Regions from separate parts of the Homo sapiens genome. Here region 2 is linked to region 1. Evidence: fine-mapped expression QTL. Tissue or cell type: adrenal gland. Region 1 holds a variant in brackets; the other region holds the start of a gene. All regions are shown on one strand. Distances are between the middles of the regions.

Region 1 (7,857 bases):
TTATTGGATATAGATTAGACCATTTGATGTCCCACAGCTCTTTGATGTTCTGTTAAATTGTCTTTCAGTCTTTTCACCCTACGTGTTTTATTTTAGATTATTTTTTGTTTCTCTGGCTTCAAGTTTCCTAATTTTTTTCTTCTATAATGTCTAATCTGCTACTAATCCCTTCCTTGGTATTTTTCATTACAGACATTGGTTTTTGTCATCTCTAGAAGTACGGTTGGGTCATTTTCCTTGTCTCTCCTTCATATGCTCATGCTTTCCTCTATTTCTTGATCATATAAGATATTTATAATAATTGTTTTTATACCCTTGTCTACTAATTCTACCCTCTTTGACATTTCTTGGTCTGTTTCAATTGACTGATCTTTTTTCCTCCACATTTTGCATAGTGTGTCTCATAATTTTTGATCAAATGCCAGATATTGTGAATTTCACTCTGCTGGGTGCTGGATATTCTTATATTCCTTCAAATATTACTGAGCTTTGTTATGAGATGCAGCTAAGTTATGTAAAAACAGTTGGATCCTTTTGAGACTTCTTTTTGACTTTGTTAACTGGGACAAGCAGCTATTACAATAGGGCTAACTTTACCATACTATTGAGGCAATTAGTCTAGGGCTTGTTTTTCCCTTCAGAGGACTCTACCCAATGCCCCCTGAGTTATGATGTTTTTCACTCTGCCTGGTATAACCATGGACTATTCCTAGCCTTCTGTGAGCTCTGCTGACTACATTCCATTGAGACAGTTATTTCTCTAGCTTTGAGTAGTTACTTGCATGCTGTGATCAGTATTTAGCTGATGACAAGGTGAATCTTTTACAGAATCTAGAACTTTCTCTTTATGCAACTCTTTCCCCTGTGCCACTGTGTGTGGGAACTCTAGGTGCCTTAGACTTCCCAATCTCCCAACTCTATTCAATTCAGAGAGACCTCCAGGTCTTGCCTGAGTTCCTGCATACTGCACTGTGGCCTGAAAACTCTCTCAAGAAAGTAAGTTGCTCCATGATGGAACTGAGGATCTGAGGAAGGGAGGGAAAAAAAATAAAAAGAAAGTAAGCTGGGGTAATCATAGGGCTCACTTTATTTGCTTTGCCTTTCTTAGGGATCACTGTCCTGCCCCACTTGATGTCATGTCTGAACCCCATTGTTTCATATATTTTGTCTAGTTTTTCTGTTTGTTTGTTGTTTCATACAAGAAGGTAAATCTGGTTCCTGATACTATCTTTCCAGAAACAGTATCAGAAACTAATAGAAGTCCACCAAAAGTGCAATTCATCTCAGTGGAGGAAAAGATAAATTATTCAATAAATGGTGTCAAGATACATATTAATAGGTTCTAATTTGCAATTACAGGATAAAATCTGAGACAGTTTTAACAGAAAAGAAGTATATTAAACATTATTAATAGATTACAAATTTTCCAGATGGGCCAGAGAGTTAGGCTTTGAGGTGAAGCACTTGGAAACTGAATTAGCCTGTCAAACTATTCAAAGGAATGACTGCAGCATTCTGGTGCTGGCAACATACTTCACACCATAGTTGTGCTGTTGCTGTTGCTGTTGCTGTTGCTAACTTCTCCATGTTTTTCTGCTGTGCTTCATCACCCTCTTCGGGAACTATGTTTTGTAGTACCTGCCTTCTCATGATGTTTTTTCCAAATCAAGATTTCGTGAATGCATACCTAGTTGATGAAACCTAGGTCATGCACCTTCTTCAGAGCCACAGGAGAAGCTGGGGAATTGACTTTGTATCTGCCTTACTTTGATGAGACAGAATACAATTTTAGAACATCCACAAGTATAGAAATATGATTCAAATGACACTGGGTGGCTACAAATAGGACAAATAGTCCCACAACACAAACTGAGTAGTCATGTGAAAACAGGTGAAGTTGAATCCCTACCTCACACCTTATACCAGAAGGTCAGAGAAACCAGGAAAAAAAGAAACCATAAAGGTACTCAAAGAAAATTAAGAATTTTTAAATAACTCATTTTATTTTTCATATTGCTGCCTTCTAATCAAGTATCTAAGGGCTTACAGATCTAAAATAAGAGTAAAACAGGCAGTAAAGCAATGATGACCTGTGAAATAAACATAAATCCAACATAATGGCTCTGCCTTAGGTGTAGACTGTAATAGTAGAATCTGAGAGGTGTTTCAAAGACTCTACAAAGCTTTCTCACCTGTATCTCAACATACCCACAATCAGCTGTGCTTCTGGGTCTTGCCCCCTCAGATCTCTACTTTTGTCATCAGGTTTATCTCCCACAGAGTCCTTTTAGCCTTTAAGATCTTTCCTGGGGGTGAGGGGTCTTTCTTTTGGTGATATTCATGGTGTTGCTGTAGGCTTTTAATTGCACTAGTAGAATAATAGACAAAAGGAGAGGCAATTACACAATGGAAAGAACAAGGCTTGACTCACAAGCCCTGATTTGTGCCCTAGCTTTGTCACTTACTGGATGATTGGGCACATTATCTAATTTGATTGGGGCTTGGTTTTCTCAAAGATAAAATTATTCCACTAACACCTACCACATAGGGTTAGATAAAATAACATACATTAGATAGATAGGCAGATATGGAAATATTTTAATGAAAGAAAAGAGGTTGTTTAGTTATGCATATTTTGCCTACATATTCCATCACAGTATTTATAAAATTGATTTAAAAATAGCAAAGTATTACAGCATGTTCCTTTGAAGAATAAGAAAAATTATCCAAATAGATCAAGAAAGAGATGGTTCACTTTGTGAAATATGAAACATATATGTAAGGCACAAAGAGTCATAACTCTTAAACTATCCAGGAGCTCACAGTTGGACTGGTAAGATCAAGGGATTAATAAAAGTGAGATGGTGTTAAGAAAATTCATGGTGAAAACCATCAATGAATTTTTTTTAAGTCTGATAGATTATTTTGGTCTAGAGTTTTTCTGAACTCTATCTTATTTGCCTAAAGTCAGAGAGGCATTCCTCTCATTTCTTATCACAAAGCCACAATAAATTAAATGATTTTATCCATTCTTTGAGTTTCCTCCTTCTAGTTCCTGGTTTAACAAGAGCTGTAGAAAACCTAACCTTGGAAAACTGGGGAAGTGTCATGAAAAATGAAATAATTCAGAGATTATCTTAAATATTTCTCCAACAGAAAAATTATTATGACTATTTTCTCACCTCCATAAAAACTTAGGCATATTATTGGCTTAATTATTGAAACTGAAAGCTTGTTTTGGCTGTTACAACCATTGATAAGGAAGATTTGAGGACATAGTCATCATGCATGATGTACTGTAGGGAAGTGGAATCCCCTCACTGCTCCCCTGACCTCCTATGTGTCATCCTCAAAACTACCAGAATGGTCCACCTGAAGTGTAATCTGACCATAGCAAAAACCCTTCAGTGGCTGGAAAGAACAATCTAAAGACCCTTGATGGCTTTTGAGCTCCTCTGTCCCTCTCCC[C/G]ACTTGTTCCTCCTCTGCTCATATTAACCTTGATTAATGTGAACATAGCTGTACTTCCGCATCCCTATGCTGCTGTTTCTTGATTTCGTGATTTTTCTCATGCTTTACTGAGAACCCAGAATACCCATCCCTTCTCCAAAGCCTAATTCCTGCTTGCCTTTGAGACATAGCTCCAATGCCATCTCTCACTCCCTGAGACTGGGCTGAGCACCAAGCCTTCATTATCGTTCTTGCAGGACTCACAGAATAGGGTGAGTAAGTGAGGTGGGGTGTGGGAGTAGTCGACAAAGTGGGTGGTGGATGCTATGATAGGGAAGTACAGCGTTCTGTCAAAGCTCCAGCCTTCTGGAAGAAGTGACACCAAATCTGTAAACCAGGCAAAGAGGAGATGTAGAGAGTATTTAATACCATGGGAAGAGCATGTAGGCCTACAGAAAAGAGGCTAAATAGTTAGATGGTGCCCAGATGAAAAGGGTTTTTTAAGCCATGTTAAGGAATATGAACCATATGCTTAAGGTAAGGGGCAACCACTGAAGGAGCTTAAGCATCTCTGTGCAGATCTGCATTCTGAAATATCCCTTTGATTAACTACATCATAAATTATAAATTGGAAGAGGTGAGAGCAGCAGGAAGATGAGTTGGGAGACTTTTCTTAATCTAGAGGGGAGATGATAGTGGCTTAATCCAGACTAGTGGCAGTCAGGGTGGAAGGACATAGAAGGGACTGGAAAACAATGAGGAACAATCAGCAGGACTTGGTGATGCTTAGAGAGGAGCTGAAAGTATAGGAGGAATCCAGGATGATTCCCAGCTTTCTGGCTTGAGCCATGGAGTAGATGATGACACTATCCGTGAGATAGGAGACTGGTAGGAAAGTTGTTTTAGTTCCGATGCGAGTCCAGCCCAAGGATACTTACAGCTTAATTTTGTATTTATCAGATATAGTGGAGAAATAGGTATAGACTTACCGAACACCTACTATGTGCTTGGCCTTGTTTCTAGGCACTAGGAATGCCATAATTAATAAAACAGAAAAAAATCTTGCCCTCCTGGAACTTAGATGCTAGTAGGGAGATGGCAAAAAGTAAATTAGTCTATTGCACAGAATGTCAGAAGGTAAAAAGTGCTATGAAGAAAAATAAAGCTAAGAACAGGCTCCTAAGTGAGAAGGTGGACCTCTGGGCAGAGACCTGAGGATGTGAGAGAACAAGCCATGTGGGTAACTGTGGAAAGAGCATTCCTGGCAGAGGGGCCAGCCCATGCTGTAAGGCAGGAGTGTGCCTGGCATGCCCCATGGAGACCAGAGTGGCTGCAGGAGGGTGAGTGAAGGGGAATGAGGTCAACAGGCCACAGAAGGCCAGTGTCAGTCCTTATAGACAGTGCAAGACTCTGGTTTCTAGTCTCAGCAAAATGGGAAGCCACTGGAAGGCTTTCAGATAATGATCTGACGTGTTTGAACACAATCCTCTTTGGGACAACAGCAGAAGTTGGGGGTCCAGTTAGGAGGCTATTGGTCCAGGTGAGAGATATTGGTAGCACTGGAGGTGGTGAGAGATGATCAGATTATAGATGTATTTTAAAGGCTTTGCCAATGGATTGGCTGTGAGCTGTGAAAAATAGGAGATTCAGGATGCAACCCATGCCAACGTATCACCCCATTTTCACACAGTGGCCTTACTCACAGATGCTCTTTGTGGGACATTCCCAAAGTGGCTGTGCTTACTTCTGTGGGCCACCACAGTCTATTTCCATGGGTTTTTGAGCTTGACGGTGCCAATTATGGTATCTTTAACTCACCAAAAAAATAATTTATCCAAGTTCTGTATCCTCTTATTATGACCTTCAAGAAGCATGTGCTTTCAGTTCTTGTGTGCTGCATAATATTTTGAAATACTAAATCCTTTCATTCTCCCTGAATTTTCTAGTAAACAAATTTGTACCTGGTTGGTTTTAAAACTGATTTTCTTAGATTCCAAGTAAAGCTGAATATTTCTTACCTTTTTTAAAAAATTTATTTATATCCTTGTCCATTGATTAGTTAGGGAGATAGTGCCGGTCTTACTGATTTATATGCCTTCTTTATAAGGAAAAGTAGATTTTTTTAAGATTAATAACTACTGGTAGCGTGGAACCTATTTAAAACATCTCATTGGAAGCCCCAGATAAATGCATACTCAGAAAGATGGCTTGTTTTGTTTGGCTTATTTGTTTTTATTGGAAGGGGGAGTGCATTGCTATCAAATAAGCTACCTCAAAGGAATAATTGCAGGGATAAACAAAATATATTTCATAATATGGTAAAATACCCTACTGAAAACAGAGACAGAAACCTACAAAGTGAATCTGGTGGATAAGCAGGAGTCCTAGATCAGGTTTCAAAATCAGATTCAAGGTGAGTTGCGGTGGGAATTGCAAATCTATATGAGACCAGGATTCAGTGAAGCGTTTTTTGTTTGCTTTTGAGACGGAGTCTTGCTCTGTTGCCCAGGCTGGAGTATGCAGTGATCTCGGCTCACTTCAACCTCTGCCTCCCGGGTTCAAGCAATCCTCCCACTCAGCCTCCCGAGTACCAAGGATTACAGGCATATACCACCACGCCTGTCTAATTTTTTTTTTTTTTTTGGTATTTTTAGTAGAGATGGGGTTTCACCATGTTGGCCAGGCTGGTCTCGAACCCCTGACCTCAAGTGATCCGCCCACCTTGGCCTCCCAAAATGGTGGGATTACAGGGGTGAGCCACTGTGCCCGGCCTGGATTCAATGAAGTTATAATCAACAATACTAAGGCTAATTTCAAAGGTAAGGTAACTATGTAATGTTTATTAATTCATTTAAGTTATTAACTGTACAGTAGGACTGTTTTAATGAAAAGTTGATTTGCTGGCTATTTTGTACCTGCCCCTGCAGATTGGCCCTTCTCCTTTCTCTGTGCCCCAAGAGGCTGATCCTCCTGTCGGGCAGGAGATTGGAGGGAAGGAGAGAGAGGTGAATGTTTATTCCCAAGGCTCTTTCTTTCCCTGCTGGGTCTTGGGTTAACTTTATTCCTCTAGTGGAGGCCACAGCCCCTGCTGGGTGGCCCTCTGAACAACCACAGCTGCTCCTTCCAAGCTCCCATAACCCCTCCTTCCTTTCAGACAAGGGGTGGTAATGGTTCTACCTGGTTGCTAGCCCTGGAGTATTACACCATCCCTGTGGTTTCCCTTCCCCTGTGTATAGTCCCTTCATTCCACTCTCCTCAGTCATCTCTTACCCATGCTACTACTGCCAGGATCCTGACTGATAAAGTCATGTTCCTTATGAAAAAGGAAGACGGAAAGAGGGAGGAAGGAAGGAAGGAAGGAAGGAAGGAAGGAAGGAAGGGAGGAAGGAAGGAAGGAAGGAAGGGACACCTGTTTAATATGGCACTACTACCAGCTGGTGAATCATAAGTATCCAAAGAAGAAATAATCACTTAACAACCAAACTTATAAACCAATTAATGACATACCACATGTGACATACCACATTTTTTCCTTGCACATCTCTCCCTACTTGCATCGTGTCCTGGTACCTTTCTTTACCACGTGTGTTGGCAGAGACAGCTAGTTGTCTCTGCCTAGCCATTCTCCCCTTTCTTTAGTCATGAATCCTCAGTTTTTATCTGGGCCCATAGTTGTCCAGCTCCACATTACATTTCCAAGCCTTCCTTATAAATAGATGTGCTCATGGGACTGTTGGCTAATAAGATAAGAACAGAAACAGTAAATATACCTCCAGGTCTTCTCTTTAAAGGGAAAACATGATTTCTACTTCACTTTCTCTTCTCCCTCTCCAGTTAGCTGGAGTGATACAGGTTGGAGTGTCTCAGTTTATATGGGTTCCTGATGCAGGAGTTTCTGTGAAAAAACTGGTAAAGTTTCAGGCAAACTGATGGGTTGGTCACCTTAAGTGTAGTAGGGACTGGAGGAGTCATTTTGGGAGCTGCATGCTGAAGACAGAAGGAAGTGGCCCTCACCTCATGACTGTTGCCTAATTGAAAGATAAACTAACATTTTGTCCAGGCCATTGTTACTTTGGTTTCTTTTATAGCAATGGAATCTGCATCCTAATGCATGTTTTGTTTTGTTTTTTTCTCTTTCTTTTCCTTTCTCATGGTTGCTTGAGAGCTCTTTCTTACTAATAGAATATAATAATAATTTTTAAAAATTGTTTTATTTATGTAGTATTTTTTAAAGATGGTCTATTAAAAACATATGTTTACCATATGGCCCAGCAATTCCACTTCTAGTTACATTCTCAAAAGAAATGAAAACCGGTACTTGAATGAAAAATTATACACAAATATTTATAAGCAGCACTATTCACAATAGCCAAAAGGTAGAAACAACCCAAATGTTCATCAACTAGTGAA
Region 2 (5,000 bases), 140 kb before region 1:
ATACTGTTGACTAATTGGCGATCCAGTATCCTCCTACTTGAAAAAAATGCTTATAGTTTATTCTCAAAAAAAGGTGAAAGAGACTTAAAAAAATTCCACATTTTCAAGGAACTCCTTCACCTTTAAAATGGAAGGAAGAAAGGAAATAAGGAAGGGAAGGAGGGAGATAAATGGAAAATGAACAAGGGTTATGAAGAAGCAAGTCACAGAAGAAATTCAAATGACCAACAAATATATGAAAAGATGCTTATCCAGACTAATAGTCCGGGAAATTAAAGTTAAAAACAATATTTTATGCCCTTAGATTGGCAAAAATTTTAAATATTGCTAAAATTCACTTTTAGCATGGATTTAGGGAATAAGAGTGCTGGTATACACTATTGGTAGGAGTTCACAATAGTGCAATGTATATGGAAGATACTGGTATTAAGTTTAAAATTTTTAACTGTGCCTATATTTGCAGGATTATTTACTAGGGAAAAACTAGAAACAATCTTATATAATAGGGAAATGGTTAAATAAATTATGGTACATTCTTGCTATGGACTGCCATAGGTATTGACACTGATGAAAGTCTACATAAAATGTGTTTAAAAGGAAATTGTAGGACAACGTATATAACATAATATCAATTAAATAAAAATAGGGCTGGGAGAGGTGGCTCAATGTATATAATATAATCTCAACTAAGTAAAAATAGGCCCGGGCAAGGTGGCTAACACCTGTAATCCCAACACTTTGAGAGGCTGAGGTGGGAGGATCGCTTGAGCCCAGGAGTTTGAGACCCGCCTGGGCAACATGGCTAACCCTTGTCTCTACAGAAAAATTAAAAACACAGTGGGCGTGGTGGCTGACACCCAGCTACTCAGGAGGCTAAGGTGGGAGGATCACTTGAATCTGGGAGGTAGAGGCTGCAGTGAGGCAAGATCCTGCCACTGCACTCCAGCCTGGGTGACAAAGTGATACCCGGTCTCAAAAACAAATACATAAATAAAAATAAAAGTATATTTTCCAAAGGAAAAGGTTTCAGAAGATTCACACTATATTTAATAGTTGGTGTGAATCCTTTGAGACCTTTTCCCCTGAGGAAGTGAGAATGAGGGTTTAACTTTTCACAATGAACAGGCAGTGCTTTTTTAAAAACAACTTTATTGAAGTATGATTGGACATAAAATAAATCGCACATACTTAGTGTCCAACCTGGTAAGTTTTGATATTGTATACATCTGTGAAACCATCATCACAATCAAGATATTATCCATCATCCCCCTAAACTTCGTGTCTCTTTGTAATCCCTCTTTTCTGCCTCTTTCTGACCCCACTCCTATCCGCTAGCAACCGCCCATGTACTCTCTGTCACTATGTATTAGTTTGCATTTTCCAGAATGTTATGTAAATGGAATCATACGGTTCTGGCTTCTTTCACTTGGCAGAATTATTTTGAGATTCATCCATGCTGTTGCATTTATCAATAGTTTACTTTTTTATTGCTCAGTACTATTCCTTCGTATGGATCAATCACGACTGGTTTATCCATTCACTTGTTGATAGACATTTGGATTGTTTCCAGTTTATGGCTATTACAAATAGAGCTGCTATGAACATTTGTGTACAAGTCTTTGTAAGAACATATGCTTTTTTCCCTCTTGGGTAAATAGCTAGGAATGGAAGGCTGGCTTTGTTTAGCATTTTAAGAAATTGTCAAAATGTTTTCAAAGCTGCCGAACCATTTTATGATTCCACCAGAGACAGGAGTATGGGGCTGAGGTAACAAATGGTCCCCTTCACCATCCTCGGATGAGTTAATGACAGTAACCATCAGCTCACCGTATAGGCCTAATCAGGAACTGTCCGTGCTAAAATGTGTCTAGTTCTCTTTAGTCAGATTCCTTTGAGAGTGTGATTAAGCTCACGGTCAGTGTGGCGTGTAGGACGGGACACACATGGACAAATGCTAGGCAGGAATCGCCCACGCTGGAAAGGGCGATGGCCTGAAAAAAAACGACCGCAGTTGGGATGGAAAGGGGAGGGTTGAAGTTCAGACATATTGAAGTTAGAATGGTTGGGACTTGGTAAGAGGGGAGAGAGGACGATGCCTAGGGTTTAGTGACCAGGTGATGGTGGTGCAAGCAGAGGGGAGGAGTGGGTTGGCGGGAGGAAAAAGAGGTTATTTTTGGTTTGTCACCTGTGAGTTGCCTACTGGACACAAAGATGAAGCTGTCGGGAAAGTGATGCTAAGTGTACACGTCTGCGTGGAGATCCAGACTTCTGGTGCAACATCTAGGTTTAGGTGAAGTATTAGAAGCAGTTGTAGCCAACAAATTCGTATCTTTCAGAGCAATCATTTCTACACCTTACGAAAAGCACCGAATCCGTGGTCTCCCCCACACAGACATGACCAGAACATGTGCGATGACGTCAGCCTTTTTGACTAGTCTCCCACTCACTCGATTCTGCGCAGGCGTATGGCGCATGCGCAACATCCCCTAGTGCCGCCGCTCCCTACTCTGGGGGTTGGGACTACCTCCTTTTCCGCGGGCCCCGCCCAGGCGGCTGCCCGTGACCTGCCTGGGCGCGGGGAACTGAAAGCCGGAAGGGGCAAGACGGGTTCAGTTCGTCATGGGGCTGTTTGGAAAGACCCAGGAGAAGCCGCCCAAAGAACTGGTAAGGGCTACGGCGGCGGCAGATAAGCGGGTGGATCTGTGTGGGGCGTAGTGAAGTTGGTAAATGACAGGACACTCTTCTCCCCACCGCCTGCCCGATACCGCCCGGCCCCCATTTCCGGGGACTCCCACTCGACAGGGGGGCCGGAGGAAGAGTCTTTAGGAGTCGGCTGTGGGACGCGAGAGCTCCTGGTGCCATGGCTCTCGAACAGGTAGCCGAGGGTGGATGAAGAGTTTCTCCACCTCGCCACTGAGCGCGTAGGCAGCGACACCGTCCTGGCCTCGGAAACCTCTTCCCCCTGCGCGCGTTGGTACGACCCGCCCGGAACCTTTTCCCAGCGTAGGCCCCACCCCTCCAGCCCGGCTGCGGACCACCCGGAGAACCTTCTCCTGCCCGAAGCGTTGTTTGGAGCGGGCCGGGTCGCGTCTGCCGGAGGAGCCGTCTGTTCTCCGTCCTCCCTGTTGTGTTGAAAAAGAGGCTCAGTTTCCTCTTTCCCCAGCCCTTGTGTTGACCCTAGGCACATACCGTAGCGGGGCAGGGACTCGACCCAGAAGAATGTTACAGAAGATAGCTCTGGACCCGGCTTCGAACTCTCGTTACCTATTAATTGAGATAATATTGGGAGGCAAACAGTTGAAAATGCCCTGCAGTCAGTCAACCTAAGTTTGAATCCTGCCTTCCCACATCTCAGCTCTGTGATCTCTGGAAAGTTCACTTCTCAGTGCCTTCTCGACTGTGAAGCCAGAATAATAGTAGTGTCACCTCAGAGTAATTGAAGATTCAGGGATGTAAAGTTTTCATATTGGTAGTTAGGGCTAATTCTTTAAATACGGCACAGCTTTGCTACTCAAATGCCAACCAGCAGCATCAACATCACCTGGGAGCTTGTTAAATCTCGGACACCACTCCAGACCCACTGAGTCAGATTTTGAATTCTGACAAGCTCCCTAATGATTAGTGTGCACATCAGTGCTTTGAGAAGCACTGCTCTGCAACACCTAGGCTTGTCCATAATGGAAAAAAAAAATCCTGAAATCCTTTAATAAATGATCTTACCTGTTCAGCTCTAGCAGGCACATTTTAAAAACTAATCTTATGCATCTTGCAATTCCTGGCACATAATGTGCGTTAATGTAAATTTGTTGTTGTTGTTGTTAAAGGCCCTAGAACAGTAGACACTCATTATTTTCGTCAGGAAACTTACTCAGTTTTGCTCCTTGGTAAAATAAAAATTGTGGCGCTTAAATGAAATAACGGTATAACATCACTTTGGAAACTATAGAACATTATATAGATGCACATTTTGTGACATCTGTATATTCTAAGATTCTTGTTATTGTAGAAGTGTGGTAGGGAGAGATTATTTGTTGTCTTCAGTGTTTGGCCTTGGCATTGCCATTCGTAAATTGAGATAAGATTATGGAGAAGCAAAAAAGATGCTGGGGAAATGGTTGCTTTATTGTTTAAACTAGTCTCTAGTATATGTACTACTATACTACTCTAGTATATTGTACACTTAGATTGTTTTTAAATGATAAATTGCTAAGAACACGATATTGGTACACTCTTCAGTAGGGTAATCTACCTGAGAAAGCTGATTGACACTGGAAAATGGCAGGGTTGATGCATGAGATTGGTTTTTAAAACTATGCTTGCCAGAGCCGAACAGGTAAGATCATTTATTGAATAAAAAATTTTAGTTGTTTTTCCCCCCATTATGGACAAGTCTGGGTATTGTAGAGCAGTGCTTCTCAAGCATTAGTGTGCACACTAATCATTAGGGATCTTGTCAGAATTCAAAATCTGATTCAGTAGGTCTTGGATAGGGTCTGAGATTTCTAATAAGCTCCCAGGTGATGTTGATGCTGCTGGTCTACACTTGAGTAGCAAGATTGTAGAGTGAATTAAGATTAGCCCTAACTACCACCACCTTTAGCTAACATATTGAACCAGGCATTGTGTTAAGCACTCTGCAATGTTATGAGGTAGGAACTGTTATTGTCTCCACTTTACAGGTGGCAACTGAGGCATACAGTATTTAGGTAATTTGCCCAAGGTCATACAGTTTGTGAATTACAGCACCAGAGGTTATGTATTCTAAGGCCTATACTTAGAATTATCATGCCATTTATACTACCTCCCAAAGAGGGATTATAAAGGTGAAATAAGAAGCCAAAGAACTTAACTTCTAGCAAGTAAGATAAACATTTTAAGAGCTGGTTTGGATAGGGCACCTGATATGGTTTGGATCTGTGTCCCCGCCAAATCTCATGTCAAATTGTCATCCCCAGTGTTGGAGGTGGGACCTAGTATGAGGTGATTGGATCATGGGAGCA

Direction of the effects. Positions count from the first base shown, and alleles are read on the strand shown. Sizes are in standard deviations (SD) of each study's normalised expression.
For the expression in adrenal gland of the gene that starts at base 2,525 in region 2, allele C in region 1 goes with a lower level than allele G (small effect, 0.35 SD a copy in GTEx).

What was found. PIP is the estimated chance that this variant, and not a neighbour inherited with it, causes the effect.
Region 2: CHMP3 starts here. The variant in region 1 is fine-mapped to the expression of CHMP3 in adrenal gland (GTEx, PIP 0.99).

What each region holds. Positions count from the first base shown.
Region 1 is chr2:86,416,981-86,424,837 of GRCh38, reverse strand. No RefSeq gene overlaps it. Among named protein-coding and RNA genes, the nearest start is that of KDM3A, 20 kb to the left of the region's middle. The variant C/G (reference allele first, on the strand shown) is at 3,469.
Region 2 is chr2:86,560,968-86,565,967 of GRCh38, reverse strand. CHMP3 (charged multivesicular body protein 3) reads left to right here and starts at 2,525. Exons shown (of 6, transcript NM_016079.4): 1 at 2,525-2,664. The coding sequence starts at 2,620. All of the region lies in intron 3 of RNF103-CHMP3 (RNF103-CHMP3 readthrough), which reads left to right. CHMP3-AS1 (CHMP3 and RNF103 antisense RNA 1) reads right to left here and starts at 3,898. Exons shown (of 6, transcript NR_183901.1): 1 at 3,721-3,898; 2 at 3,048-3,122; 3 at 2,569-2,700; 4 at 2,186-2,280; 5 at 1,828-1,991. RefSeq lists enhancers at 2,150-2,209, 2,368-2,662, 2,820-2,919, 2,930-3,099.